Linked DNA regions of Homo sapiens. The protein of the gene in region 4 interacts with the protein of the main gene of each other region in a pairwise test. Each region holds a gene or a part of one and is shown on either strand. Other genes may lie near its edges.

Evidence for each region.
Region 1: the proteins of CCDC136 (region 4) and DYNC1I2 interact in a two-hybrid assay, tested with the Homo sapiens proteins (one large-scale study listed by BioGRID).
Region 2: the proteins of CCDC136 (region 4) and CEP95 interact in a two-hybrid assay, tested with the Homo sapiens proteins (one large-scale study listed by BioGRID).
Region 3: the proteins of CCDC136 (region 4) and ZNF223 interact in a two-hybrid assay, tested with the Homo sapiens proteins (one large-scale study listed by BioGRID).
Region 5: the proteins of CCDC136 (region 4) and ZNF35 interact in a two-hybrid assay, tested with the Homo sapiens proteins (one large-scale study listed by BioGRID).
Region 6: the proteins of CCDC136 (region 4) and ZNF599 interact in a two-hybrid assay, tested with the Homo sapiens proteins (one large-scale study listed by BioGRID).
Region 7: the proteins of CCDC136 (region 4) and PKN2 interact in a two-hybrid assay, tested with the Homo sapiens proteins (one large-scale study listed by BioGRID and IntAct).

The regions. Positions count from the first base shown.
Region 1 is NC_000002.12:171,742,758-171,746,847, reverse strand, and holds part of DYNC1I2 (cytoplasmic dynein 1 intermediate chain 2), read right to left. Parts: intron 2,800-4,090; coding exon 2,659-2,799; intron 1,047-2,658; coding exon 921-1,046; intron 1-920. UniProt on the Homo sapiens protein: Acts as one of several non-catalytic accessory components of the cytoplasmic dynein 1 complex that are thought to be involved in linking dynein to cargos and to adapter proteins that regulate dynein function.
Region 2 is NC_000017.11:64,520,355-64,524,444, reverse strand, and holds part of CEP95 (centrosomal protein of 95 kDa), read right to left. Parts: intron 3,044-4,090; coding exon 2,918-3,043; coding exon of another isoform or gene 2,902-2,917; intron 1,744-2,901; coding exon 1,550-1,743; intron 1-1,549.
Region 3 is NC_000019.10:44,050,207-44,055,075, forward strand, and holds the start of ZNF223 (zinc finger protein 223), read left to right. Parts: upstream 1-1,829; 5' UTR 1,830-1,989; exon of another isoform or gene 1,990-2,551; intron 2,552-4,869. UniProt on the Homo sapiens protein: May be involved in transcriptional regulation.
Region 4 is NC_000007.14:128,801,846-128,805,935, reverse strand, and holds part of CCDC136 (coiled-coil domain-containing protein 136), read right to left. Parts: intron 1,287-4,090; coding exon 1,175-1,286; intron 578-1,174; coding exon 412-577; intron 176-411; coding exon 35-175; intron 1-34. UniProt on the Homo sapiens protein: May play a role in acrosome formation in spermatogenesis and in fertilization.
Region 5 is NC_000003.12:44,651,594-44,655,683, reverse strand, and holds part of ZNF35 (zinc finger protein 35), read right to left. Parts: intron 3,128-4,090; coding exon 2,983-3,127; intron 1-2,982. UniProt on the Homo sapiens protein: May be involved in transcriptional regulation. Involved in cell differentiation and/or proliferation.
Region 6 is NC_000019.10:34,766,265-34,770,354, forward strand, and holds part of ZNF599 (zinc finger protein 599), read right to left. Parts: intron 3,292-4,090; coding exon 3,165-3,291; intron 1,148-3,164; coding exon 1,052-1,147; intron 1-1,051. UniProt on the Homo sapiens protein: May be involved in transcriptional regulation.
Region 7 is NC_000001.11:88,826,841-88,830,930, forward strand, and holds part of PKN2 (serine/threonine-protein kinase N2), read left to right. Parts: intron 1-1,640; coding exon 1,641-1,783; intron 1,784-4,090. UniProt on the Homo sapiens protein: PKC-related serine/threonine-protein kinase and Rho/Rac effector protein that participates in specific signal transduction responses in the cell.

The DNA.
Region 1 (4,090 bases), on a different chromosome or scaffold from region 4:
GGGCACAAACCACTCACTGTGGCAAATGGCTGTGCCTGTTTATAAATCTACACTATCCAGTAGGGTAGCTACTGGCCACATGTGACTGTGTATATTAAAATTAATTAAAATTAAAAATTCAGTTACGCAGTTGTAGTAGCAACACTTAGAGTGTTCAATAGCCATATGTGGCTAGAAGCTACCATATTAGTGCAGGTACAGAACATTTCCATTTGTGCAGATAGTTTAATTGGCTGCTGTAAATGATTAAATCTACCTCCCACCAGATCCAATTGCTAGAGGCCATGGGATATCCAGAGAGGAGAGAAATCATGAGGCATAGCAAAGGAAAGTGACTAAGGTCACTTTTTTAACCCCTAGCCAGGGTTAAAAAAGAGGAAATCCATCCTGGGCTTTGTGTTCAGCCAATCAGAGCAGCAAAGATGAGAGAGCTGCAGCTCATCCTATTGGATTCCATTACTGTGGCTTTGCATCAAGGCTTAAGAGTCAAGATGCACATTGCATAAAGTCACAGATGGTTCTCAAAAGATACTACTTTTGGTTTCTACTACCTGGCCCAAATTAATGAATACAGAAAAATAAATCTTATTTCAATATCAATAAAACCCCAAAGTCCACCTATAACTCCAAACTTCTCCCCAAAGAATTTCTAATTTCCAGCAATGCATGCTTCAAGAAACAAGGTATTTTCAATGTATTTATTGTATTACCCTCAAAATCTGTTGCATGGGAAACAGAACATTCGGTTTAGAAAGAAAATGTTTCAAGAGCTGCTTCTGTGGTAGAAAGTAAGTTTTATCTTTACAACCATATAGTTTAAACAACTCATAAACCTCAAAGCCTAGGGTTAGCCACAAAGATGCCTTTACTACAATGCAACTAAATCGATGTGTCAAAATTACAGGCAGGGAGTCCCATACCTCTCCCACATCGTATATAACAATCTGTCCTTCAGAATCACCCACAGCAATCTCTCTGCCAGAATGGGTCCATCTCACACGATTAAGAGCAGGATTACCCTCCACAGAAATGCTGGCAGTTGGTACCTAAAGTCATTTAAAATAAAGGACAGTGTTAAAAGTTTCATCAAGATTTCTATAAACATGTAAAACAGTAATTCTTCTCTCAAGCTGGCTACATTTTTAAAAACAAAGATGAAAACAGGTAAGAATTTCCCCAACTTTCTTCTTCTTCAGTGATATATTATGAATGACATTATAGTCGATCCTTGAAAATGGTTTGGGAAAATAAGTCTTTGTATAAAAAATTCTCAGAAGACTAGACACATTATTTTGAAAGGTCTTCTCTTGAATAAAGAATCCTTTTTTGTTGTTTTAATGTCTTTAAGAAGTCAAGCTGTTTGAAAACACATGGCCAAAACCCATTTAAAAAGAAAACACTTCAAAAGCCCTCATAAGCAGATTATGGTTCAGTTGTAAAGGACAAGAATCACTTGTGCAGCATGTATCTCTATCAGCTGAAACCTGTATTTGACTCAGTGTTCCTAGAAACGGTTCATACTGAAGGTGCAGTATGAGTCTGTCTAAAGCCTCTTGTTCCATGAGCTAGCTGGAGATAGCCAGGATGATGGCACCAACACAATGGCACCAGCTCCCTGGAATCTGACTGTGCCTCTTCTTTGCTAAGGAAGAAGAGTTTTATTTGCTACACATGGAGCAAACATTCAGTGTTTGGATTCAGACTAAAAGTATGATAAAATTTTTAAAAAATTTTGAAATTTGACAAAAAAATCCTTCTAATTTGTACTAGTCATCCCCAAATAATTTAACCCCATACACAGAATACCAAAATTGTTATAAAGAAATATTAAATTTCAATCCACATTTAATTGTAACTTCAAATCTCTAAGACTAAAATCCAAATTAAGAAAACAGAATTGGTACCATTCTAGCTAACTAGGAAGAGATGTGGGAGATCTGAGTTGACTCTCTCAACAATTGTTATTGACAGAAATGCTAATATTAATTATATTACTAATAGCAATATAGAATAGAATTCTAAGAACATTTTTAAGCTTCTCTAAGCTGGTAAAAATACATGTGACTAAAAATAAATAAGAGTTGCAATTAAATTTAATGGCTAATAAGTGATTTTAGTACAGCAATTAGGAAATCTGATAGTTTCTATATTCATTTTATAGTAACACTCTGTTTTCAATCCTTCATAGAAAAAACTCATCAAAAATCAAAATATATTTTTCCTTCCTTCAAACAAATCAGGCTAAGATTAATGTTTATGGATGATATACAATGCTATCAAGGCTAAGAGATAATTTAGAAATTCAGAATTAAGGTTAACATACTTCAACAGTCTGAAACTATCTGCTTTCTAGCTTATGAATGAAAAACATCCCAGTTATCTTATGAATGAGACTTTGCCAGGACATTAGAGACATGATAGTGCTTTTCAGAAGTAAAAGGAAATGCCCCAGTGCTCCTGGCAACATTATTTCTCCCTTTAGTTCTTCGCAGCATGCTGTTTATTATTTAGGGTACAAAGCTTATTTGAGTTCTTTGTGATGAATCTACAATCACAGAACCCTTTTACATTCTTTGGAAAAAAAGGAATTTCACAAATTATTCAATAAATATCCAATTTTCTATTTTTCAATGCAATTTTTGTTATTTTCCTGCTCACCTCTGTGTCATTATTGAGATTCCACAAATCCAATCTCCCCATGCCATCCACACAGGCAAACAGGGCTGGGTGGGTAGGTGACCACATAACATCATAAACATAGTCTGCATTATCTTCAAATGAATACAAAGGCTTGTTATTCTGAAAGAGAAAAGTTGATTCTTAGCACAGTCCATATATGACATACAAATCATTAAACTACTTATCACTGGGAAAAAAATGACATACATTCAACAGGTATGATAACATTTTATGATATTTAACTCAGCCTAGAAAAAGTTCCTACAATTTGTTTCACTACAGAATTACCTGGTATTGTAAACTAAGAATCAACTATTGATTGCATTTTCTTTTTAACTTGTAGATGCCATACTGTTTAAAAAAAGAAATAGAACATGCTTCAAGAACATCTGTCAATGAGAAGATTCTGGGAAGATAACAGCAATAGCAGTGTACTTTTTAAATCTCCTCTAGTTCTCCCCATAAACTCAGATAAAGCAATGAGGGCAGGAAGAGCAAAGATTCACAGACAGCATCTACAGCAGAATCAGGAGACAAACTTCCAAATAAAATCAGGTGGAAACAAACCTCTCACAACTACAAGACTTGCATGGTATCAGTATCTGTGTGGGAAGAAGATGAAGGAAGGCACGAGAACTTCTGACAGGTGGAGAACAGAACCTCACAGTCATAGCAGATGCTCACTGGACAGTGTGGTGGGCTAATCTGAGAACAGCAGCAAAAACTAGGGGGCAGTTTGGCACAATTCCATTTATAAATACATTTGACCCTTGAACCATATAGGTTTGAACTGCAGAGATCCACTTATACTCATATTTTCTTCTGCCTCTGCCACCCCTGGGACAGCACAACCAACCCTTCCTCTTTCTTTTCCTCCTCAGCCTACTCAACTGTGAAGATGATAAGGATGAAGACCTTTATGATGATCCACATCCACTTAATGCATAGTAAATATATTTTCTCTTCTTTATGATTTTCTTAACATCTTCATTTCTTTAGCTTGCCCTTAAGATGACAGTATATAATACATATAACATAAAAAATATGTGTTAATCAACAATTTATGTTGTCAGAAAGGTTTCTGGTCAGTAGTAGGCTATTAGTAGTTAAGTTTTTTGGAAGTCAGAAGTTATATGTGGATTTTGAACTGCTGGGATAGGCGTTGGCACCCCTAAGCCCTGCATTATTCAAGGGTCAACTGTAAATGCAAGCAGACTACAGTGCAGTATAAGTAAGTTCTCATGGTACAGTCTGGGTGCTATAAACTCTCAAAATTAACAAATCAAAGTTCCTTTCCAAGACAAAGTCTCACAGAAGAGAAACTGCTGGGAGTAGAATCCAAGTTGTAGAATGCCAGACAAAAGAGACAAAGCAGTAAGTTCAGACAGAAGTGGTGGAGAGAAGCAGAAAA
Region 2 (4,090 bases), on a different chromosome or scaffold from region 4:
GTCCCAGCTACTTGGGAGGCTGAGGCAGGAGAATCACTTGCCTGGGAGGTGGAGGTTGCAGTGGGTGCAGACTGCACCACTACACTCCAGCCTGGGCGACACAGCGACACTCTGTCTCAAAAAAAAATAAAACAAACAACCTTTTACTAAATAGCAACTAAAATATAATCATATTTTAATAAAACTTTTAAAATAAAGTATTTCTAGCTCAATGAATTATTTGAAAATAAACACTCCCCTTTAACTGCCACCCAGGTCAAGAAACAGAGTATTACCAACTCAGAAATATCTCTAAAACCCCCACTATGATTCCCCCAAAAGTAAACATTATCTTATGACTCCATTTTAACACCTCTTTTTATCTAATCCCTCTCCTGTTTAGATGCACAGAATGTTGAGAATGTGGTCACCTATTGTTAATAATGCTTATTTCATCTCTGTACTTTTAATGCATTGCTTGAATGTTTAAATAATGAAAATGTATCACTGTTTATATATCTACCCTGTGTACATACCTGCCTGTTGTTTTTCTTATTTTATTTTTTTCTTTTTGAGACAGGGTCTTGCTCTGCTGCCCAGGCTGGAATGCAGTGGTGTGGTCACAGCTCACTGAAGCTCCTGGGCTCAAGTGATCCTCCTGCCTCAGCCTACTAAGTAGCTAAGATCACAGGCATGCACCACCACTCCAGGCTAATTTTCTATTTTTAGCAGAGACAAGGTCTCACTATGTTTCCCAGGGTGGTCTCAAACTCTGGCACTCACATGAGCCTCCCAAAGTGCTGGGATTATGGGTGTGAGCCACCGAACCCAGTCCTGTTCTTTTTAGAAAGATAAGGACAGGATGACTATATAAAAAAGGTTTTTTCTTTTTTTTTTTTGAGATGAAGTCTTACTCTGTCACCCAGGCTGGAGCGCAGTGGCGTGATCTTGGCTCACTGCAATTGAACCAAATAGATCAATATGTTAACAGTGGTTCATGGTGGATAATGGGAATATGCATGGATGGTTATTTTCTTTTCCACTCTGTGTTTTCTAAATTTGAAATTATTAAATTACGGACACAATATGGACTCTGAAGCCAGAATGTCCAAGTTCAAATCCTGACTCTGTAATTGCTGTGTAACCTTGCCCTCTCTACATCAGCTTCCCAACAATAAATAAATATAGTAGCTACTCCAGAGTTGTTATGGGCAGTAAATTATTCAATACCCCTAAAGTATCCAGAACTGCGCCTGGCACAACATAAACATTCACTATGTGTTGGCTCTTATTATTTCCCTTTATATGCATTCGTTTTTCTCCTATCTTCCTAGAACAAGAATGTGCAGGTGTATACAGAGGCAAATTTTAAGGAGTACGATGCTTTGACTAGTGCAATATGCTTGACAATTCTAGCAGACTTCTTTAAATATAGGGGCTTCCTTGACAAAGAATAAAGACTTCACCAATACACATACACACACACGGCCTTCTAATCAATTACCAACACACACACAGACATACATACAAGTGTACTTCTAGCCAACTGAAAGTAAGCTTTTCCACTTACCCCAGAAAATTCCGTATGCTCTCCAGTAGAATTTACGGCTGGGGAGCAGTGACTTGAATGCAAGTATTCTTTTCCTATGGGGCAGGGTGCTCGAGGCTCTGAAGGGTGGTAGGGTGGATGTAAAGGAATAGCTGCTCGGATAGGCTCCCCTAGCTTCCTAGCATTTGGAATCCCACTCACAGAAAGGGTTTCCGCTAGTAAGACAAATTAAAGTGGATATTACGATGCAATTCTAAGAAATAAACCATTTTATATACATACATACATACCTATATAAACATGTTCACATACATTAGAAATATTTTTTAAACTTAAGACAAAGCACATAAAAAAATAATTAAACCAGGGATATAGCCTCAGCACACAGGGATCTAATTAAATTAGGATGTAATTTTTTTTTTTTAATTTTTAAAAAAAGTAGAGATGAGGTCTCGCTATGTTGCCCAGGCTGGTCTCCAACTCCTGGGCTCAAGTGATCCTCCTGCCTCGGCCTCCCAAAGTGCTGGGATTACAAGTGTGAACTACCATGACTGGCCCCGGATGTAATTTTAATGTTATTATCATAAAACTGTTCCCTGAAAGTTACTTTAAAAACTGGAAGCAACTTAAATGGCTTGAAGAATGTTATGTTATGTGAATTATGGTTCGTCCACGTTACAAAACCAGTTAGGCAGTAATATTTTTATGTATTACTACCATATGAAAATTCCAGAGATGATAATAAGAAACAAGAATGATTTTTCCAGGCCGGGTGCGGGAGCTCACGCTTGTAATCTCAGCAATTTGGGAGGCTGAGGCAGGCGGATCACGAGGTCATGAGTTCGAGACCAGCCTGGCCAACATGGTGAAACCCCATCTCTACTAAAAATAAGTTAGCTGGGCGTGGTAGCAAGCGCCTATAATCCCAGCTACTTGGGAGGCTGAGGCAGGAGAATCGCTTGAACCCAGGAGGCGGAGGTTGCAGTGAGCCGAGATCATGCCACTGCACTCCAGCCTGGGCAACAGAGCTAGACTCTGTCTCGAAACAATAAAAAAAGAATGTTTTTCCAGTTACTATACTTTGTTATTTACCAATAATATGAAGACCACCAATAGATGTACTAATGTGTCAGAGACTCTGTCCCATTAAAAAAAAAAGGTAAGTGGTGAGAATTTAGATAATAAAATAGTGGATGCAAAAATATGCAACCAAAGACCATGTTAAGCAGAATTCAGATACCATAATTAATAGCAAACATTTACAAGTAAGATCATGTAAGACCAAAAAGGATCTCATATACAGCAATAAAAGTAAAAAGGCTAATGGCAACAACAATTGCCCCAAGAATGATCATCAGCAGTAAAGAACTAACATCCATTACAACTCACTGTCTTCAACAAAGGATGTCCTACTCTTGGACAAAACACTAGGAGGGTACAACATATCTTCATGTGATTTAGAACTTGGTGAGGCTAAGGCTTTTTTAGACAGCATTTCATTAGGACATTGAGCACCTAGGAAAGAAAATATTAAAGGTAAAATTTTTAACTATCAAAATAGTTTGCTGAACATTATACTAAAAGCCAAGAGTTTTGTACTCAGGAAACAAATATTAAATAATGTTGAACGAAATAATGTTGGTCCAACTGCTCAAAATACCAATTATTATTTTTCTTTTTCAGACAGCATTTCCCTCTTGTCGCCAGGCTGCAGTGCAATGGCGTGATCTCGCTGCACTGCAACCTCCACCTTCCAGGTTCAAGCAATTCTCCTGCCTCAGCCTCCAGAGTAGCTGGGACTACAGGCACCCGCCACCATGCCTGGCTAATTTTTTGTATTGTGACAGGGTTTCACTATGTTGGCCAGGCTGGTCTCGAACTCCTACCTCAGGTGATCCGCCCACCTCAGCCTCCCAAAGTACTGGGATTACAGGCGTGAGCCACTGTGACGGGCCATAATATCAATTATTTTTAATTGCTATCAGAAAGTAAGATGCCATTTTGTAATCCAGAATCATTTATACAATTTAAAAGCAAAGTTTCATACAATGTTTCATTATTTAGCTTTAGAAAAATAGATGCCAGAGTTACGGAAATGCTGGCTGTTTTATGGACATGTCTTGGTATGAATAGACACCAGAGTTAGGGTCTTAGCTAGTACCAGAAACATGGACTCATGGTCCAGGCCAAGCGCAGTGGCTCATACCTGTAATCTCAGTACTTTGGGAGGCCAAGGCAGGCAGATCACTTGAGGTTATTAGTTCAAGACCAGCTTAGCCAATATGGCGAAACCCCATCTCTACTAAAAATACAAAAATCAGCTGGGCATGTGGCACATACTTGTAATCCCAGCCGCTTGAGAGGCTGAGGCAGAGGTTGCAGTGAGCCGAGATTGCGCCACCGCACTCCACCCTGGGTGACAGAGCAAGACCTAGTGTCAAAAAAAAAAAAAAAAAAAGACTATGGTCCATATATTGAAGCTTAAATTAGATGCCTGTGAATGTATATGACAGTTATCTGACACTTTAAATCTCAATATGAAAGGAAGCTGCCATAAGCCCT
Region 3 (4,869 bases), on a different chromosome or scaffold from region 4:
GCATTGAATCAGACATTGGGTGTCAGATTGATACCAATGCCAAGCTCTTCAACAGTTATACTTGCTTTAAGATACTTAGCAATTCACTAACTTCTCTGAAATTTAGCGTTTCTACATCTAAAGTAGAAATATTACTACCATGAGAATGTTAAATGTAGCTTTTCCATGAGGACACAGCTTCTCCATTGGTGGCTGGAATTTTGTTTTTCCTGTCAAACCAGTGGTACCACAGCATCTGGACTAGGGCTGTAACTGAGAACCACCATTTTTCTAAGAGACAGCTTATTTATTTCTCTCTCTTTTCTCATTCCCTTAGTTCCCCACTTCCTATGTAGCCCTTTAAAAATGCAAATATAGACTTTTACCTCCCCTTCACCAGACACTTCCTACAGGGAAAGTTCATCTAACTGTGTGCTCCAAGCCAGAACTCTCCTCCAGAATTAACAGTCAATTTACAAACTAAAGCATGCTGGCCTCTGAACTCTCACTCACCAGGAGGTTGCCTGAAGAGACAACAGTTGAAAGCGTGCCTGCTACTCTCTCCCTTCTGGTTACAACTTATTTCTGCCCATGAAAAAGCCAGCTCAACTGCCTAATAGATAAGGCACCAAGCCAGCACACAGACCCCTTCCCTCTTCCTCCCCTACCTTTTAAAAGTGCCTGCTTTCTGCTCTAAAAGCCAAGCCGTGCACTTAAAGACAACACCTGTGCTACTTCCCCTACGCTAGCTCTAGAATAAATCACTTTCTTTATACCAGATCTCCCTCTTGTTAACTGGACGTTGCAAACGGGAAGCCACTGATCTACTTTTCAGTTACAGGGGCTGATGCTTTCCTGGCTTCTCATTGCCCCTCCCAACCCATTCTACCTGGCTCATTCTTTAAACCAGTGGTCCCCAACCGTTTTAGCACCATGGACCGGTTTTGTGGAAGACAATTTTTCCACGGACTGGGGAATGGTTTCGGGATGAAACTGTTCCACCTCAGCCATTAGATTCTCATAAGGAGCGCCTGACCTAGATCCTTCGCACGCACAGTTCACAATAGGATCCGCGCTCCTATGAGAATGTAATGCTGGGCTGATCTCACAGGAGGTGGAGCTCAGGCCATAATGCTCCCTCACCTGCCGCTCACTTCCTGCTGTGCCGCCCGGTTCCTAACAGTCAGTGGACCGGTACAGGTCTGTGGCCCTGGAGTTGGATATCCTTGCTTTAAACCCTGAGCCTCCTTTCAGCCATCTGACGGCTCAACAGTCACTCTATCTAGCTCCTTGAATATTGTATCTCCTCGCTTGTTCCCTGTCCAAGAACACTCCTGTCAATCATGGGAGACATTTAGACTTCATAAATTCTTTCTATTCAATATTTTCGCTCGAGGACTCTGGGAAGGACAACTGTCAGGGTAACAGTCTGCATTCCCCACCAGGAACCTGGGGCTATGAAATTCGTTCCCCGTGGGTGTTGCGGGAAGTGTAATCGAGGAGCACCATGTAGTCGCAACACTTGAGCCTAAAGGGTGAGGTGATGGACATTTTCCTTTTGCATCTGAGGCTCTGCAGTCCAGACACCTTGCGGGATTCCTGATACTTCAGCTCAGGTAGGCGTTTCCGGAGAATTCTGGGAAGAGTAGTCCATTTTACGGGAAGTGTAGTCCACTGGCTCGTGGAACACTGGGTATTTTGGCTCTGGCAGGTGAACCGTTGAATTCTGGGAACGATAGTCCAGACACTCTGCGGAGTCCCGGGCCCTTTGGCTCAGGGGGGCGGGTCCGGGGAATTCTGGGGAGTGGAGTCCAGACACTCTGGCGCAGAGAGGACACTTCCGGTCTCCTAGTCTGAGGTTCCTGCTTTAATGACCGGGGTAGTTTGAGCCATTTCTGCGTCTTGCAGGACATTTTGAACGAACCCCCTTTGCTTGAGGCTCGCAACCACCCGATGATCGATGATCGTCTCAGGGGAAAAGAAGCCTTGGCGAAGAGCAGAGGTTTAGAGGTGCGAGGGCGGGGAGGGTGTTTATTGTTCCCGTCAGCGGAGCCTTCTGGCGTCGGGGGGCTTTGCTCGCCTCCCGGGGGGTGGGATTGGGGTGGCCTTGTGTGCCCTGCTCTGAGGGTTTCCAGGACTTTGACCTCGCTCAGTCCGCCTCCCTACGTATGCAGTGTGTACACTCTTTCTCGCAGTGTGATGTGGAATGTTAATGTCTCTGTACTTCCCATTGCTGTTCTTTAAAATGGTGCTTATAGGGTCATCCTAATAGAATTGTTTTGCGAATTGAAAGAGATAATACAAATGAAAGCCTTAAAGTTGTCCCTGTCACTTGGTGAGTGGTCTCTTGTTGCCTGATATTTTAAAACGTTTGATATCATTTCAAAGCTATAGAAAAATTGCAAAAACAGTATAAGAAATTCTCATATACCCTTTACCCAAATTTGCCAAGTGTTTACATTTTTCCTGTTTGCTTTGTTGATGACCATCAACCAAATACCACCAGGAACATACCTGTAACCAGAGACAGCTGATTGGTAGCTTTCTGCAGCAAGGAAGCCCACATACCACGGTAATTGTGGGGTGTCTTGGTAAGAGGCATTTAGGAAGGGCTGGTTATAGGGTTTCACATAACATGGTAGATAATATTGGATATTATGTTAAATAATACTGTTACCGATTACATGTCAGATAGATGTGTTAAAAGAATACTAGTATTTGTAGTGTACTTACTAGATAGTGTTGGATAGCATATTACCTAGCATCATGTTATCTAATCTGCAGTTCCATATACGAATTTGTTAAATTTTTCATTTAAAGTCCTTATGACTGTCCTCTGCCCCACCCTTCACCTATTCAAAGTCCAGTTTATGCGTTGTCTTTAGCTGTCACATTTCCATAGTTGTTCATTTGGAGTTTGATATTGAAGGGGGCCTGCCTCTCCACACCTGTGGGTGTTTCTCACAAGGTGGAAATGAGAAACTGAGAAAAGAAATAAGACACAGACACAAAGTATAGAGGAAGAAAAGTGGGCCCAGGGGACCGGCGCTCAGCAAATGAGGACCTGTACCGGCACTGGTCTCTGAGTTCCCTCAGTATTTATTGATCACTATCTCTACTATCTTGGTGAGGGGGATGTGGAAGGACTATAGGGTAATGGTGGGGAGAGGGTCAGCCGGAAAACATGTGAGCAAAGGACTCTGTCATAAATAAGTTTAAGGAAAGGAGTTGTGCCTGGATGTGCACATAGGCCAGATTTATGTGTGACTTTACACAAACATCTCAGTGCAGTAAAGACCAGTATTGCCGCCAGTATGTCTCACCTCCAGCCATAAGGCGGTTTTCTCCTATCTCAGTAAATAGAATGTACGATTGGGTTTTATACCGAGACATTCCATTCCCAGGGATGAGCAGGAGACAGATGCCTTCCTCTTACCTCAACTGCAAAGAGGCCTTCCTCTTTCACTAATCCTCCTCAGCACAGACCCCTTATGGGTGTCGGGCTGGGGGACGGTCAGGTCTTTCCCTTCCCACGAGGCCATCTCTCAGGCTGTCTCAGTGGGTGGAAACCTTGGACAATGCCCAGGCTTTCTTGGGCAGAGGTCCCTGTGGCCTTCCGCAGTGTATGGTGTCCCTGGTTAATCGAGACTGGAGAATGGCAATGACTTTTACCAAGCATACTGCCTGCAAACACATTTTTACCAAAGCACATCCTGCACAGCCCTAAATCCATTAAACCTTGAGTCAATACAACACATGTTTCTGCGAGCACAGGGTTGGGGCTAGGGTTACAGATTAACAGCATCTCAAGGCAGAAGAATTTTTCTTAGTACAGATCAAAATGGAGTTTCTCATGTCTTCCTTTTTCTACGTAGACACAGTAACAGCCTGATCTCTTTTTCTTTCCCCTACAGATATATTTCACATTTAGGTTTAGATTATACATTGTTGGTGGGGATTCCACAGGAGTGTTAAGATGCCCTTTTCTTTTTTTTTTTTTTTGTTTGAGACAGTTTTGCTCTTGTCACCCAGGCTGGGGTACAATGGTGCAATAGGATGCCCTTTTCATTGTAACATAACAAGGTCCAAGTGATGTTCGTTTGTCCCTTCATTGGTGATCTCAGCTTTGTCACTGGCCAAGAAGATGTCTTTCAGATTTTTCCACTCTTATGTTACTTTTTTTTAAATTATGAAGTTTCTTATGGGAAAATACATTATTAGTGGGCATTTTCTTGTAAAAAAGAGCTTCCATTTCTCCTCTATTGGTTCATTGATTTGTTCAACTATAAATATTCTATCAATGTGGACTCAGAATCCAGTCTTATTGATTCTAATGATATGTGCATTAACAGTTTTTTTTTTAAACTCTAGGTTTATTTTAGTTATAGCATTCACCCATTTCAGGTATACAAGTCAGTTCAGTGGTCTTTAGGAACTTTGAAGTGGGGTAATCATCATCATAATTCAGCCGAGATCACTTTCATCCCCCAGTTGGACTCCTCATGCCCATTTACTTTGAACCTCATTCTCAACTCAAATTTAGAACAACTGCTAACCTACTTTCTATTCTATTCTACTTGTCTATTCCAGACATTTCATATAAATGGAATCGTAGGGTCTGTGGGTTTTTGTGACTTGCTTCTTTCATTTACTGTAATGTTTTCAAGGTTCACGGGTGTTGTTGCATGGGTCAGTATTTCATTCCTTTACATTTCCAAATAAGATTCCATTGTATGAATATGCCACAATTTTTCTGTCCCTTTACCTGTAGGAGAGCTTTTTGGTTGTGTGCAATTTGGGGTTAGTATGAATAATGCTGCTGTGAGCGTTCATGTGCTAATTGACAATATGAGTCCTTGTTGGTGGGTGACATCCCTGGCCACCCTTTCA
Region 4 (4,090 bases):
CCCCACCCCAGATGCCTCCCCGGGCAGTGTTTACCTGGGTGACACTGTGGGAGGTCTGAAACCGAAGCACCTCATTCTGAGCACACTTGAGCTCCCTCTGCAGCCGCCTCTGCTCCTCCTCACTGACCTGGCGATGATGCTGTAGCTCTTCCAACTCACAACACAATTCCTGACACTATGTGGGAAATGGAACAGGGAGGCTTGTTTACTACAGATACCACATATGCTCCAAGAACAAGCTTGGGGAAAGCATGGCGCTCTTTGACTGGAAGATTTACATCAGGCAAGTGAGACCCCAGAGTACTATCTCCCTCCACAGTGGATGCCTATGGAGATGTTTCTACCACAGGCTGGGAGAAGGTGAAAGAAAGACAAGAAATGTGCCTGCCTTCCCCACCCTCTGTGCCCTACCTTGTTCTTCATGCCATGCATCTGCTCTTCAGCATCCCGTAGCTGCTGCCGTAACAACTGCATTTCAGGATCAGGCTCTAAGAAATCCATTTCTGAAGTCTGAGACTCTGCTGACGTCATACTCAGTGTTTGGGACTGCAGCCATCTCTCTGTTGCTCTCTGTGTCCTGCAATTCAGAACCGCAGAGCTATGCTTGAAGGGAGTTCTGCCTGGCATCACCAGCCATGCAGGCTTTGTCCTGATACCTTCATTTTAGGCCAAAGATAGTAAGGGGCCTTCTATTGTGACTCACCGCTCAGATAAACATGCTTAAAAGACTACAGAAAGTCTCCAGCCCCTCAATCTGCAAAGGTGTGTTTGGCTCTGGGAGACCCTTAGAGTGCCAGTCCAGTTAGTTTTGAGGCTAGGCCTAGTCAAGCCCACTCCAATCTGGAAGCATTGTGCCTGCCATTAGACTGAAACAAGTCTATGCAGACAATAAAAGAATCTCTTCTGATCCACTTTAGGGCAGAGCAAACCAGAACCCAGTGCCTAGAGCAGAAGTAAACTTCAGAACTCACTCCCTCTAGTCTTGAGATAATTGGGTCGGATCCCCATGTCTGCTTGTAGGTGGTATCTGTATCCTTTGGAAACCATGGAAAGGACTGGGTCTCCAGGAGCAAAGGAACGCTCACTGCCCTGGCATCTGCCTTCAGGGAAAGCCCAAGGTAAGGCAGAGTCCTGTGGAACCCCATGACCTCTCACTCTCCAGAGACAGCTGTACCTCTCACTCTCCAGATCTGCAAGCTGCCCCGTGAGGCTGCTGTTGCTCTCCTGCAGGGCCCGGTATTCCTCATTCAGGAAATGGTAGCGTTCCCGCAGCTCCTGCAGTTCTTCTGCAGAGGACAGGCAGAGAGAGATGAGACCGGGAGGAAAGGAAAGCACTGATGACCAGCCCCCAGTTTTCCTGTCTTGAAACCTGAGAGCAGAAGGTTAAAGAGCTTCTCTTTTTCTAAAGACAGAAAAAAGGTAGAGGCTTAGAAGACAGGGCCCAGGAAATTCCACAGTGCAGTGAGTCTTTCTCCTCTTCCCAATAGCTGTCCTTCTTCTCATCTGCCCTGAAGATTTACCCTGTGTGCTCATCTTCAAAGCCTCAACCGAAGCAGACTCTTGAACTTTTAGCAATTTTTGAAAGTTTAATTAACTTTCAAATTTTTACTGTATGTAAAAACTTTCAAAAGTTTACTGTATGTAAAATTTCCATTCAACTGTTTATGATTACCTTCCAATTATGCTTTTAGTACAAAAAGCTGAGAGATGTGAACTGTCAGATGTGACTGCCAGTACCTGCCTTTCAGGCATTCTGAGTTTCCTTTTATGTTCTTTATTCCCACACCAAATACATTGGTCTGGATGTGGTAAAGAATTCTTGCCAGGTGTAGTGGCTCAAGCCTGTAATCCCAACACTTTGGGAGGCCGAGGTGGGCAGATCACTTGAGGTCAGGAGTTTGAGACCAGCCTGGCCAATATGGCAAAACCCCTGTCTCTACTAAAAATACAAAAAGTAACCAGGCGTGGCGGTGCATGCCTGTAGTCCCAGCTACTCAGGAGGTTGAAGTAGGAGAATTGCTTAAACCCTGGAGGCAGAGGTTACAGTGAGCCAAGACTGTGCCACTGCACTCCAGCCTGGGTGACAGAGTGAGACTCTGTCTCAAAAAAAAAAAAAAAAAGGAATTCTTTCTAATGGCCTTTTATCTGCTGACAGGCCCATCCTAACCAGACTCACATATCATCCTCAAGCATTAGAAGAGATCCGGTTGAAATACTCCAGCACATGTCTCTAAGCACCAGTCACCTATACCTATACTTTTTCCTTTTTGGTTTTGTTTTGTTTTGAGATAGTCTTACTCTGCCATCCAGACCAGAGTGCAGTGGCACAGTCATGGCTCACTGCATCCTTGACCTCCCTGGACTCAGGTGATCCTCCCACCTCGGCCTCCCAAGTACCTGTGACTACAGGCACACACCACCAAGCCTGGCTAATTTTTGAATTTTTTTGTAAAGATGGGGTTCCGCCACATTGCCCAGGCTGGTTTCAAATTCCTGGGCTCAAGTGATCCACCTGCCTCGGCCTCCCAAAGTGGTGGGAGTACAGGCATGAGTCACCATGCCCACTTTTAAGGCTGTGATGATACAAACACCTGTATCTGTTTTGTTGCTTCATGACTAAGAATTATGTTGGCCGGGTGCAGTGGTTTACACCTGTGATCCCAACATTTTGGAAGGCCAAGGTAGAAGGATCATTAGAGCCCAGGAGTTCGAGACCAGCCTGGGTAACAGAGCAAGACTCTGTGTCCACTAGCAAAAAATTGAAAAAGAATTATGTCTCTTAGAACATTAATTCTACTGATATTTAAAGAACACTAACTTGCTCTAATTAGAACACAAGACCTATCTTACCTGCTGGAAGATTCAACACCCTAAAAGTAACTTCTAATGTTTCCTCTTAATTCTAATCAGAATTCCTTAGAATACTGCAGATTACCATATAAGGGAGGAAGGAAACTAATCTTTAATGAAAACTAACCATGCGCTAAGCATTAGACTTGATAGTTTCAGCCTCAGATTTGGTAAGTGTGCAAGTGATTTCAACATGCTTCACATTTCATTTAATTCCCAAAATAGCTCTGTAAGGTTTTTTTCTTCTTTAAATAAACTTTGAATTTTAGAATAGTTTTAGATTTACAAAAAAGTTGCAAAGGTAGTACGGAGTTTCCTGGGAGGGTTCTCACCCAATTTCCCTAATTGTCAACATCTTACATTACCATGATATACCTGTCATGACTAAGGAATCAAATATTGATACATTACTATTAACTAAACTCCATAGTTTACTTGGATTTCTCTACATTTTCCCTAAGGTCCTTTTCCTGTTTCAGGATCCCATCTAGCTATAAGGTTTTATTAACCAATTTTGATTTCATATCCTGGATATAGAAACAGGCTCAGAGAAAGACCATAACCAGACCTCCTACGTTCATCCTGCTAATTAGTGGAGCTGAGATACTGAACTCAGGTCTGTTTGACTCCAGCCCAAGCCTTCCCACTGTGCCAACCTTCTTCTCCCAGCACCATTTAATCTAAAGGCTCTTCTGAGAGGCTTGATACAGCTGGAAAAACTTGCAGTTCTTTGATTCCTTGTTGATTGCCTCTGCTTGACCTGGCCAAATATAGGACCTCCATTATACTCAGATTATAAATCTAGCCTCAGAATAAAGGCAAACTCTCTGATGTCATGAATCCTAGCAACTAGCTGGGAGACTCACTGTCTGAAAGCAGGGCTCTAGGCTTTTGGGTACCTCATGTATCACTCAGAATAACTTTTCTTCTCTAGCTGTCTTTTGTTCCGATTTGTTGCCCCCCAAAGCTTCTATTTTGAGGAGAGCTAATGGAACCTAAGAATTAGCATCCCTGCACCTGGAAGCAGGGCCAGAGGCCCCCTATAAAGCATTCCAGGCAAAGCACCATGATGCCAGGGCAGCAGGAAGAGTTTCCCAAGGTGACAGGTCCCTCTTTGCCCATCCTAGAGCTGGAAATTTTCCCAGGAAGGGTTTTCCCATAGTCAAATCAACAAAGACCCAATGACTCTCTGAAGAATTCCCAGGGTACCTCTCCATGGTGCTATTTCTTACACCACCAT
Region 5 (4,090 bases), on a different chromosome or scaffold from region 4:
ATTAGGGTCCATCTGGTATAGTCAAGTTCAAATTTCTTTGGGTAAAAAGATTAATCAGCAAATAATCCGGGCGTATAACCTTGGCTTATTTGAAATGGTATTTTTCCTTTTTTTAAAAAACATGTAGGATTACTGTAGCTCTAGAGAAATTAAATTAAGTACAGAAATAATGAAAAACTAAAACAAAAACTAATTTGTGACCAACTAGAACACAGGCATAGCCATAGTTTTTAAATCAATACTCTTCTTTCACTCTTTTTTTTTTTTTAAAGATAGCTGAAATGCTACATAAGCCTGCCACCTTAGCTGGTGACTGTATTCTGAGATAAGAAGGGTAATTTGATTTACTAAATTTATAAGTCCAATTCATTAGATTTATAACAGCTGTGTTTATCAAGATTTTATTTACAAGATTTGTAAGTCTGCCCAGTTAGGTGTTTGGAATGTTTTAAAGAACTAAAGATATCAAATTTGTAATTATGTTTTATATAAAGAAATTTGATAAGCAGGTAGAATTAAATGTTTAAAATTTTTAATTAATTTATTTTTTTAGACAGAGTCTTGCTCTATTGCCCAGGCTGGAGTGCAGTGGTGCAATCTTGGCTCACTGCAACCTCTGTCTCCCGGGTTCAAGCGATTCTCCTGCTTCAGCTTCCCAAGTAGCTGGGACTATAGGCACGCACCACCATGCCTGGCTAATTTTTGAATTTTTAGTAGAGACAGGGTTTCACCATGTTGGCCAGGCTGGTCTCGAACTCCTGATATCAGGTGATTCACCCGCCTCCGCCTCCCAAAGTGCTAGGATTACAGGCTTGAGCCACTGCGCCCGGCCAAAATGTTTAAAAAATTTAATCTGTAAAATTTGAAGCTTAACTGAACATAAGTTAAAGAAAAAATACAAATGTTCTCACTTTTATACAAATATTTCTAGATGTATGGATGAAGTAAAAAGTTATGCTTAATGGCTTAAAAATTGGTTTTTAAATGAATAAACTTTAATAAATTCAACATTAATTAAAATATGAAAACTACAGTTAAAACTTGCTCAGACATTAAAAACCCAGTAACACATCACAATTTCCAAAGCACTTTCATGTATATTATACAATTTCATCATGAAGATGAAACTGTTCTCCTTCAGCTAAAAAAAGAGCAAGGTTGTGTCTTATTCATTTCTGTATCTCCAGCACCTATCACGCTGCCTGACACATAGGAAGGAGGCCGCCAACAAATCCTGTACTTAATGAACACACCCAATTTGTAGAACAGGAAATGGAGGTCCAGAGAGAGAAGGGACTTACTCAAGGTCACAGAGTTATTACAGGCAGGGCAGCAACCCCACTCAGATATCTCTCACACATAGAGCTCAGTGTTCCCACCATCGCCTGCTGACATCGCCATGGAAATAGTGTTGGCAGTGTTCCTGCCATCGCCATGGAAATAGCTGGCAGCACAAAATACTAAGTCTTGGGTATGAACATGGTCTTGAGGTAAGAGGCAAAGTAGGAAAAGGGAGCCCATTCCTGATGAGGTGCAGCTGTTGGGGTTAAGACTATGAATGGCTGATAAAGCTCAGAGACAGAAAATAAGTGACATGCACGCGAATGCACCAGAGAGAATGGAACACAAAGCAGAAAGTGGGGAACAGAAGCTGCTAAGAGTTTGGGAATAATTAAATATGAGACAAGAAAATCTAGGTGGAGATCCTTGTCTTCCCCATAGCACTGGTTTAAGAAAGTGACTTGGTCCCCAGATGCCTGAGGAACTGGTTAGGGAGGAGAGTGGGTTCAAAATATTCAATATCTGGCAGACTCATAAAAAGAATAGGGCTTGGCAATCAGCCAGTAAGTGCTTTGAAACACAGGACTCATGGCTACTGCATTCTTGACCCTCACTTATATGTCACTCCTCCACAGGCAAGCTTCTGCCACTGCCAGTGAGATCTTTAGAACATACTACCCTTTCTCTAGTCCTAGCTTAGAGAGAACAAGTTGATAAGCCATCAGTACCCTTCACGAAGACCTAGTTTTGAACATCATTATGGTTAACACAGCTGCTCAAAATCCTCTATAATTTGCACAAAGATCTATGAAAACAGAACATCTCCAGGGCATTTGCTCAAAATCACCACAAAAGTTGACTGTTCCTACCTCGGCTAGCATCTCTTGCAGGCTCACCAACCTATGCTAACTACAAAGCGTATAAAAAGGACATGTGCCTACATGTGTGCACAGAGATGAAACTCATTGAACAATAAATATCACTAAAAAGTGAGTTTGGAATTCACCTATTGTATGGTAAATACACCTGATGGCAACAACTTAAGCATACCCTGAGAATGATCCTGTATGGCAGACACACCTGAATATAGTTTGGAGTTCCAAGCAAAGGAATCCAGAAGTGGCCAACCTGGAGATCCATTCCTTATCCATTCCCCACCCCTTTCAGTGGAATGCGGGCCTTAAAGGGGATTGAGGCCCCTTGTTTTGGGTTAAATTAAGGCTGCCAGGTGGAGGTCATTAGGGAGAGGGTGTTAAGTGAAAATGCGACATAAACCGCATGCCTTTTGCAAGCAGTTGCAGCTCTCCTGTCCAGCCTGTGCCACTGGGCCATGTGGTTCTCCCGTGCCCAGTCCACTGCCTCTAGACTGTCTACCCTGTACATAAACACCTAGTAAAATTCTATGTTGTTTGCTGGCTCTGGGTCTCTTCTTCAGCCTCTTGAACCTGGTACCATATTGGTGTTGATCAGGTTTCAGCACAACACCTATGTTTGTCTAGTGTCTTGAGCCTGTGTGCAAAATAAGCCACTTCCCATGACAAATGCACAGGCATTTCAGCATTCCTCTTTCCAGCTTTCCTGGACACTTTCAATACCTCAGTACTCTGTTGGTCAACCTAGGAGACTGGATGCCCACCAGTCTCTGAAAAGATTTTGAGAAACCCCAATGGTCAGATTCAGAATCAGGGAACTGAACCATACCTAGAAAGTTCATGGTCCCATGAGTCTCCAGTATCTCACTCTTGGCCAGAGTCCCTGGTAATGAGTAGCTGCCAAGGGTTGAAGCAGCAGGTGCCTCCTGAGTTGCTTTCAGGACTACCGCCATATCCCAGGATATGTTCTGACCCTAGAGACAAGCAGGCACATGTTTAAGAGGGAACTGGTGGTAGGGGGTAGTGTGGTTACAATTTTGAGAATGAGAACATAATTATCTATTCCTGGAGGCCATAGAACAATTTTTAAAAACAGAAAAGGAAGCCAGAGTCTCCTCCAACCCCCAGGGTGAGTTGGGCAGAGAAACAAGCTAGCTACTTTCTTCCTTATTACTTTGATTGCACCTCACTGCTCACTCCAGAATCTAAACCTAGCTTACCAGTGAGTACATGATAAGAGGAGAGAGCATATGGGAAGAATTTTCAGAGTGAACTTTTGTGGGATCTAAAGATCAAAGCAGCAAGGTTTTGATGATATTATTACAGAAAGGCTCTGGGGGAACCTCTGCCCTCATTTGACTAGTAATGGTAAGGGGTGTGTTTGAAACATTAAGGACAGCACAGTGTACAGCCTCATGAATCAAAGTGTGGTGCAAAGATCAGCAGCAGTATCTGCATCACCTGGAAGCTTGCAAAACAAACAAACAAAGAACACAGAATCTCAGACCACCCCCAGACATCCTCAATCAGAATCTGAACTTTAACTGTTTTAACAAGAACCCCTAGGTGATTCCTATGCACATTAAAGTTTTAGAAGCTCTGGTTAGCATTGTCAAAACCTGACTGAAATTACCTGAAGAGTTTTAAAAAAACATGGATACCCAGGTCCCACCCTTAGATTCTTTTTTTTTTTTTTTTGAGGCAGGGTCTCACTCTATTGCCCAGGCTAGAGTGCAGTGGCATGAATTCGGCTCACTGCAACCTATGCCTCCAAGGCTCAATCAATCCTCCCACCTCAGCCTCCCAAGTAGCTGAGACTACAGGCACGTGCCACCATGCCAAGCTAATTTTTTGTATTTCGGCATTGCAAAACACGAGGTGTGCAATGTTGCTCAGGCTGGTCTTGAACTCCTGACCTCAAGTGATCCTCCCGCCTT
Region 6 (4,090 bases), on a different chromosome or scaffold from region 4:
ATGTGGGACTGACAAAGGCAATCATCACCTTGAGGTTTTTAGAAGACAGGAGGGCCAGAAAACAACAGGGCTAGGGAGTGCTTCTGCGTATCTGATACATAAATGAAAAGATGAATGGATGGATCAATAAATGACGGGCTGGAGAAGGTGAAAAATGGTGGGATGCAGAGTGTAGTTTGAAATAGTAATCTGCAGGAAAAGAAAGGACTGTCTTCTGAATGCAGAAGAATGTCTGAGCTATCACTATTCCTTATGACTAACACTACATTAATATTACTTACAAGTAACTTCTGTTGAGCCACTCCGGGTCAGGCAGTGTGCTAGGCAGTTTCCTGCTATGTGATCACATTCCCAAACAACCCAGTCATGCAGAAACTATCATCACTATCTTTCAAATGTAGGCTAAGTGTATCAGATAAGTATATGTTCACTATACCCATAGGCTCTTCTCCTTGGGTATAAAAAAGCTAAACCACATTTCCCAGCCTGATACAACATGTAGCCTAATACCCAGTTCTTGTGGATGAAATGTTAATGGAAGTGACTACTGCCCTTCTCTCCCATTCCTCTTGGCCGGGGCAACCTTAAAGCTGCATATTGACAACAGAATGCATGTGATCCATAAATAAATACAGGGTACACAGCTTTCCTGCTGACCCACATTGGGCTATGGCATGGATAAAAAAACAAAACAAAACGAAACTTAATCTGTTGAGTCACATGATTTTGGAGTTTATTTTTCAGAGAAGGTCATTAACTCAGCCTAACTTATATACCAAAGGCACAGTGACGTCACACAACCTCTCCAGAGTCATGAGGCTAGTGAGTGGCAAATCATTAAAGCCTAGAATCTGTCTCCTACCTAACATATTCCAACCTGAATAAAGGCAAAGAGTGTGTGACAGAAGTGGGAAGACGGGGGACCATGGGGTCAAGGGCTCCATGACTGCTCAAGACCACAAAATAGCTGCCCATGGCATTTCAGACACAGTGATGCCTGGGTGGTCTGCAGGCTGCCCTGATACCCGCTGCCAGACTCTCAGTCACCAACCTGCGCAGGTGCTTTGGGAGAGGCCTCTCTTCACTGTCCACAGTTCCTGTCCATGTTCCAGTAGATAGATCAGCTCTGGTTTGGGAACAGGATGCCCTGTGCATGGAGAAACAAATGGAGTATGGTGTACAGGGAAAGACAAAAAGAAAAGTCTGAGGTGTAAAGGAGTACATATATTTAACATACTGCAATGAAACCCCAGAAAGGGCCCTCCCCTGCCTCACCAAAAGTATTCCCTAATTAACCTAAGTCAGTAGGATTCAACCACCCTGTGCATCAAAACTACCTAGCAACACCCAGTTCCAAAAACAGAACAAATTAAACCAAATCTCTGAGCAGAAGGACTGAGTGCTGGTAGTTTTTAAAGCTCCCCAGGTGATTTTGGTGCCCATGATGGTTGAAAAACACAGGACTAAATCGCCTGATGAATGGCATCTATTGATAGTCAGTTGTGTGAGGCAGGCCAGTGACTGAAGCTGAACATGGAGGCCTACTGCCCCACAAGGATACTGGCCAGGGCCCTAGACCAAGGAGAGAAAGCAGACAGAGAACTGGGTTAGCATGGATTGGCACTGACCAAGCCAGGAGTCAGCAGCACCTCAGGGCTTCTCATTAGGTAAAGTAAGAAATTATTTTCAGGGTGAAACTGGCAGGAGGTGGTCTTCTTCCACATGCAGCCACACACATTTTGCCAACTGTGAAGGCTAAGACAGAAGACTCTGGAGAGAAGTCAATGACTGAGGCACCAGGACCCAGAAGCATCAACTGGAAAATCTTGTCCTGGCACGCATCCAGCTGTCACTTAGCAAATGTTCACCATAGGATTACGCACACTTACATGCCACATGCACACTCAGCAAATGTTCTGCCATATGCTTGGCACTGAGCTGGGTGATGAGCAGCATTAAAGGGGAATCAGGCCTGCCTTCATCTCTGTTAAGGAATCAAGCACCCTGCTCCCACAGGGATGCTGCTCATGTTGGTCCCTCCTCCTGGAATGCTGTTCCCCATACATCTCCTTTCGACAACTAATCACAGTTGTCATAAAATAACACCACGTTTACTTCATTAATGACTCATCCCTCGTGAGGACGCAGGACTGGGAGAGCCCTGTCGATGGTAACCATTTGAACAACTGGAATAAGTGAGACTTTGGGCCTCCATTCATATCTACTCAGACCAACTTCTGGGCAAACTGTCCATTAAAGGTTTAGGTGGGAGAGCATTTGGTATTTATTAATTTGTTAAATGTAACAAACACATGCAGAACACTTGCTATGTTTCCAGCTCTATTCTAAGCACTTTACACATATTAGTTACCTTGCTGTGACAGGTTACTATAAAAATGGCAAAATCAAAATGATAACAGGTCCCAGCAAGTTCCTGCTGCCTGCTTGAGGCTAGGAGTTTGAGGCTACTCTTTCTACTGAGGAGGAAATTCACCAACAGCTATGGGAGTGTTAAAGATTCAGCCCTAAGCCAACACTCAACATTCAAGAGACAGGAAAGAGAAAAGAAAAAAAGAACAGCTTTCTCAGATAGCATACATCCATGCCATTTGAGAATGTGTCTGTGCTCCCTTTCCATAATCATAATCATCTCCTGTAGCAGCAGAGGAGCAAGGCACAGGCCTTAGGAAGTAAGGGTTAACTGTGCAGGTGCTAGGAGCCAAAGAGACCTTTCAGCTGAGACTGTGTTGCTGAAAAAGATATAAGCAGCACTGATAACAAACACCTTCTTAGTGTCTGTGTCAATCACCCGCTGCTTGTAGAACCTCCCATTATCCACAGGTCCTGCTAACTGGGCTGTGAGGACATTTGACTCAACCAAGCTGGGCCAATTACCTCTTGTGGCAGTCTGGGATAAAGATGTCAGACTGAGGCCAGCTGTGCTAGACAGTGGGATAAAAGTGTTGAGGAGGACTGTGTTTCTTACATAACAATCTTTGATTGAGACACAGGGAAACCCAGCAAGAGGAGGTCAGACCACAACGTGCTGAGGCTGCAGGGATCAGGGAAGGTTGGGTTCTGAGGCTCCTGGACCAGCCATGCCTAGAAAGGGTGGATTCAAAGAGGCTGTGGGTCCCCTACATGGGAGGGTAATGAGGTCTTACCCAGTGAGACCAGGAGCCTGCAGGTCTCCAGCATCACCTCCTGGTACAGGGTCCTCTGGGCCAGGTCCAGGTGCCCCCATTCCTCTCCAGTGAAGGTCACAACCACGTCTTCAAATGATACTAATGCCTGGGAAGTCAAACAGAGGTGACAGGTGGCTGTGGAGCTATTAGGTGAAATTACAGCTCACTTCTTGGTTACTGGCAAAGGGTCCAGAGACCCTGAACCACTGAGCAACTCCTGAGAACCACTGGGCTCTGTGGAGGCAGATGGTGCCGCTGACAGAATACAAAGATGTGGGACAGAAAAGCCTCCTATGTTGGAAACCATTGGAAAATGATACAAGACAATGATAATCCCATCTGACTGTGAGGAGCAGACAGTAATGTCCTAGGACATTACAAGAATGGGGAAAAATAATAATTCAAACAATAATCACAGCAGCAGCAGCTGAGCCTCACTGGTCTGCACTGTTTGCCTGCACCTGAGGGCTTCACATGCTGTGTTCAAGCAACTAAAAGTCTCCAGGTCTGGAATCAGGCTCCTGAAGTTTAAATCCAGCCTCTTGAACCAACCTGCCAGATGTGTGACCTTGGAGAAGTCTCTTAATTTCTTGGAGCTCCAATTTCCACATCAATACATTAATAGTTCCCACTTCACCGAACTGTTGTGAAAATTAATGAGAAAATGTTCATAAAGCAAACACTGCAGTGCCCAGCATGTGTTACAATGTGTGTAAATTTCAATAGTCATCCTATAGCCCATGATGTAAATGTCATCATCTCCATTTCACAATCAGCAAATTGAGGCTCAGAGTCAAGTCACTCAGAGTTGTATGTCTAATGAGCAGAAGCAGGATTTGAACCCACATCCCTCGGGTCCAGGATCTATGGGTGTAACCCCTGTACTCCTCCATCACCACAGTGAA
Region 7 (4,090 bases), on a different chromosome or scaffold from region 4:
TAGTTTTCTCCAAGTTACTAAAAGGCTGGTGCAGAACTTACATAGATATTAATACTATATCACTGTTTTTTTAAATAATATTTTATTGAAGAAAATAAAAATCATTATGATAGTGTTAAAGAAATTTTGCCAAAAAAAAATTTCTCCACTCCAGTGTGCTAATGTATCTAATTGTGCCCTTCAGGTCTTGGTTCATAGACACACATTCATTTCTATTTTATAGTCACTATATATGCATACCTAATTATTCTTAATTTAGGATTGAGAGCTTTTCTTTAAAATTCTTAAAAAGATGACACTTATGACAAGTTTTTAACACTTTGGAATACATAGAGATAATATCTTCAATATGTAGACTATATATTTGATTAACATATTAATAAATTATGAGGAACATATATTTAAAAACTAGTTAGCCAAAATGTTAATACAGGCTGAGTATCCCTTATCCAAAATGCTTAGAATGAGAAATGTTTTGAATTTCAGATTTATTTGGATTTTGGAATATTTGCATATATAAATAATGACATATCTTGAGGCCAAGACCCAAGTCTAAACACAAAATTTATATATGTTTCATATATACCTTATACATAGCCTGAAGGTAAATTTATATAATATTTTTAATAATTTTGTGCATGAAACTAATCTTAAGTACTTGCGGAATTCTCTATGGCATCATGTTGGTGCCCAAAAAGTTTCAGATTTTGAAGCATTTTAGATTTTGGATTTTTGGATTAGGGATGTTCAACCTGTACTCTCCCTTCCCTCCCCTTCCCTTCCCTTCCCTTCCCTTCCCTCCCCTCTTCTCCCCTCCCCTCCCGTCCCCTCCTCTCTCTCTCTCTATATATAATATATATTGAGATATATATATGTTTTTTGTTTGTTTGTTTTTTGAGACAGAGTTTTGCTCTTGTCACCCAGGCTGGAGTGCAATGACACAATCTCAGCTCACTGCAGCCTCCGTCTCCCAAGTTCAAGCAGTTCTCCTGCCTCAACCTCCCGAGTAGCTGAGATTACAGGCGGGAGCCACCATGCCCGGCTAATTTTTGTTTTTGTTTTTTTTGTAGAGACGGGTTTCATCATGTTGGCCAGGCTGGTCTTGAACTCCTGACCTCAGGTGATCCACCCGCCTCGGCCTCCCAAAGTGCCGTGATTACAAGCATGAGCCACTGCACACGGCCCTATCTCTCTGTATTATATGACACATTTGGTCAGCTTCTGATTATCCAAGGGTTTGCTTTTTGGTATTTTTGAAACTTATTTTTTTTAGAATGTTGATTTTATAATGAAGTAAATAAACTTATTTAAGATTGAATTGGAAAGATAATGGAACTTCACAATCAGTTCATTTTGTTATAATTTCTTAGCTCCCTTGTAATGACAAGAAGAAAAAGTAACTGAAAAGAAACATGGATATCTTATTTCTATTTACCCATTAATTAGACAGTATAGTTGCTATTGCAGTTTTTGCTATACCAGTCCTTACTGTTTTCTTGAAATGTCTTAGATATGTCTGAATTTGTTCACCATGCACAAATGTGCAACTTTAATTTTGCCTCCCAAAGATAGCTTTGATTTTTTTTTTATGCTAGATTTGTTTTCTTTGCTAACAAATGTTTACATTTTATCTTTTCCAGGAATGGGATATGGAGATAGAACAAGCACATTTTGTGGCACTCCTGAATTTCTTGCCCCAGAAGTATTAACAGAAACTTCTTATACAAGGGCTGTAGATTGGTGGGGCCTTGGCGTGCTTATATATGAAATGCTTGTTGGTGAGGTAAGCAGTGTGAAATAGGTAAGAGAACAGAGGAAGGATGATTGAAATAATAAAGCATGTCATTTATAAAACCACCTAATACTGTCTTCAGTATGAGTGGAATTTAAGTTTTATAAATATTTATAGTATACTAGTAGTCAGCTATCTTTCTGTAATACCTTCAATAAAGATTTTTATGTGGTTTGTGGAATGCACTATCAGTGCTTTGAAAATAGTTCCTTGTATTTCAGTATTGTACTTTTATTATGTTTTCTGATTTTAAGACATAGTCATTTTATAGGGAATGGAATAACAGAAAGACTAATAAAAGGAATGTACTCTGTACCTGTAAAGAAAAGCCCACTATAGATTGGTCAGAAATAAATGTTACCTTCGACTTCCTCCAGACTTCCGTCTGAGCAACACACTCTGCATCCTTGCTTCACCGGGAAACTACTGAAGTTCCTGGGGAAGCAAAGTAGAATTTCGTAAGAACAAAATGGATGGAGAGAGGAGAAAACCTATGGTAGCTGTGAAGGCCCTGATGCCATGTATGTCAAATTGATATCATCCGATGGCCATGAATTTATTGTAAAAACAGAACGTACATTAACATCAGCACGATAAAAGCCATGTTGAGTGGCCCAGGTCAATTTGCTGAGAATGAAACCAATGAGGTCAATTTGAGAGAGATACCTTCACATGTGCTATCAAAAGTATTCGCTACACCAACAGCTCCACCGAGATTCCTGAATTCCCAGTTGCACCTGAAGTTGCTATAGAACTGCTGATGGCTGTGAACTTCCTAGATTGTTAAATAAAATATAATTTTAAAAAAATGAAAGAAGTGTTACCTTAAAAAATGGTAGAGTTGAAAAAATTCGCATTTTTTCCTACTGTTTTCTGTAGATTAACTTAAATTTCTGAGGATAATTGAGTTGTACATAGAAATTATTACTATTAGGAAACAGTGAGTTATGTTAAGGCAATAATAGGAGACTAATAATTTATTATGTTATAAATTGTTAGAAATGTTGAATTGGGATGAAATTGGGAAAGAGTAAATCTTTTAATAAGTAATTGAAGATTACTTGAAGGGACTTGAACTGGAGATGCAAGAAAAATTATTTTAAGGGATTGGTTCATTATTCTGCAGTTTCCCCATGCCAGCAACCTCCCTTGTACACTTGTAAGTTTGAAGAAGTTAGTGCTGAATGAACAAATTATCAAATTGAATATCAGAAATTTCTAAAGTTTTGTTCTATGCTTGTCATTTATTGGCACTTACCCCAAACAAATGGTTTTAGTTTCGCCGGATGGATAACCCCTTTTGGTATGTCAATTTGAAGTGGATTCCTTGGAAAAGGAGGAGAAGTATGGCTAATTAAAATTTATCATGTGCTAAGCACTGTACTGTATGCCTTAAATATTAGTTCATTTAATTTTGCAACAGCCTTTAATAAGCTCAGTACTGATCTTCTGCCCATTTTCGGAGGTGTAAATAGAGACACAAAGAGATTAATGACTTGCTTAAAGTCACACAGCTCTCATATGGTGGAGCTGGAATTTTAACCTTGTCACTCTGGCTCCAGAGCATATCTAAAGCATTATGCTTTGCTGCTCCAGGACAGGATCTTCAATTCATCCAGCCTTGTTTCTGTTCTTAAGACTAGTGGTCCAGATCTGAATTTTTCACCTCTATTTAGAAAAGCTGTTGTGCAGTGTTTAGGTTGGAAAGATTTATTTTAGCTCCAGTCCACAGTGGCTTTTACTTTCTGAGAGTGCCAGAAGTTCTCATAAAATAGTTAATCTGCTGTAAGCTCTGGCATACTTGAACTCCTCCCCACCCCCTTCCTTTATTTTAACAGTAACATTTTGGAGGGTTTTTTTGGTTTTGTTTCATGTAGTATTCAAGTAAGTATGAGATTTATGAGATTCAATTATGTGCTTGCTTAAAATTTACTCTCCATATTAGAGATGACATGTGCAAAATATGAGTTTATTACAAAATACTGTAGAATTAATCCAGTTGAATCTACTCCCTCCTATTATAAAGCCACTGGAGGGTTTGGCAGAAAACAAGGAAGCTCCTGTTTCATGTTTTTTAAAAGAGCTAATTGATTGAGCTCTTAATTACCTAGAAGATAAAAGACAGTGGATCTGGCTATTTCTTCACAGTTGTTTCTTGCAATTTCTCTTTAGTATCTCCACAAGAGGGTAGCTGGGAAAAGAACTAAACTTAAAACTCATCAGTCTACTTCATAATTTTATAGCATTAGTGAAATGCTAGTGATAACTCCTTTTTAACTATGATGAAAGTAAGGTGTG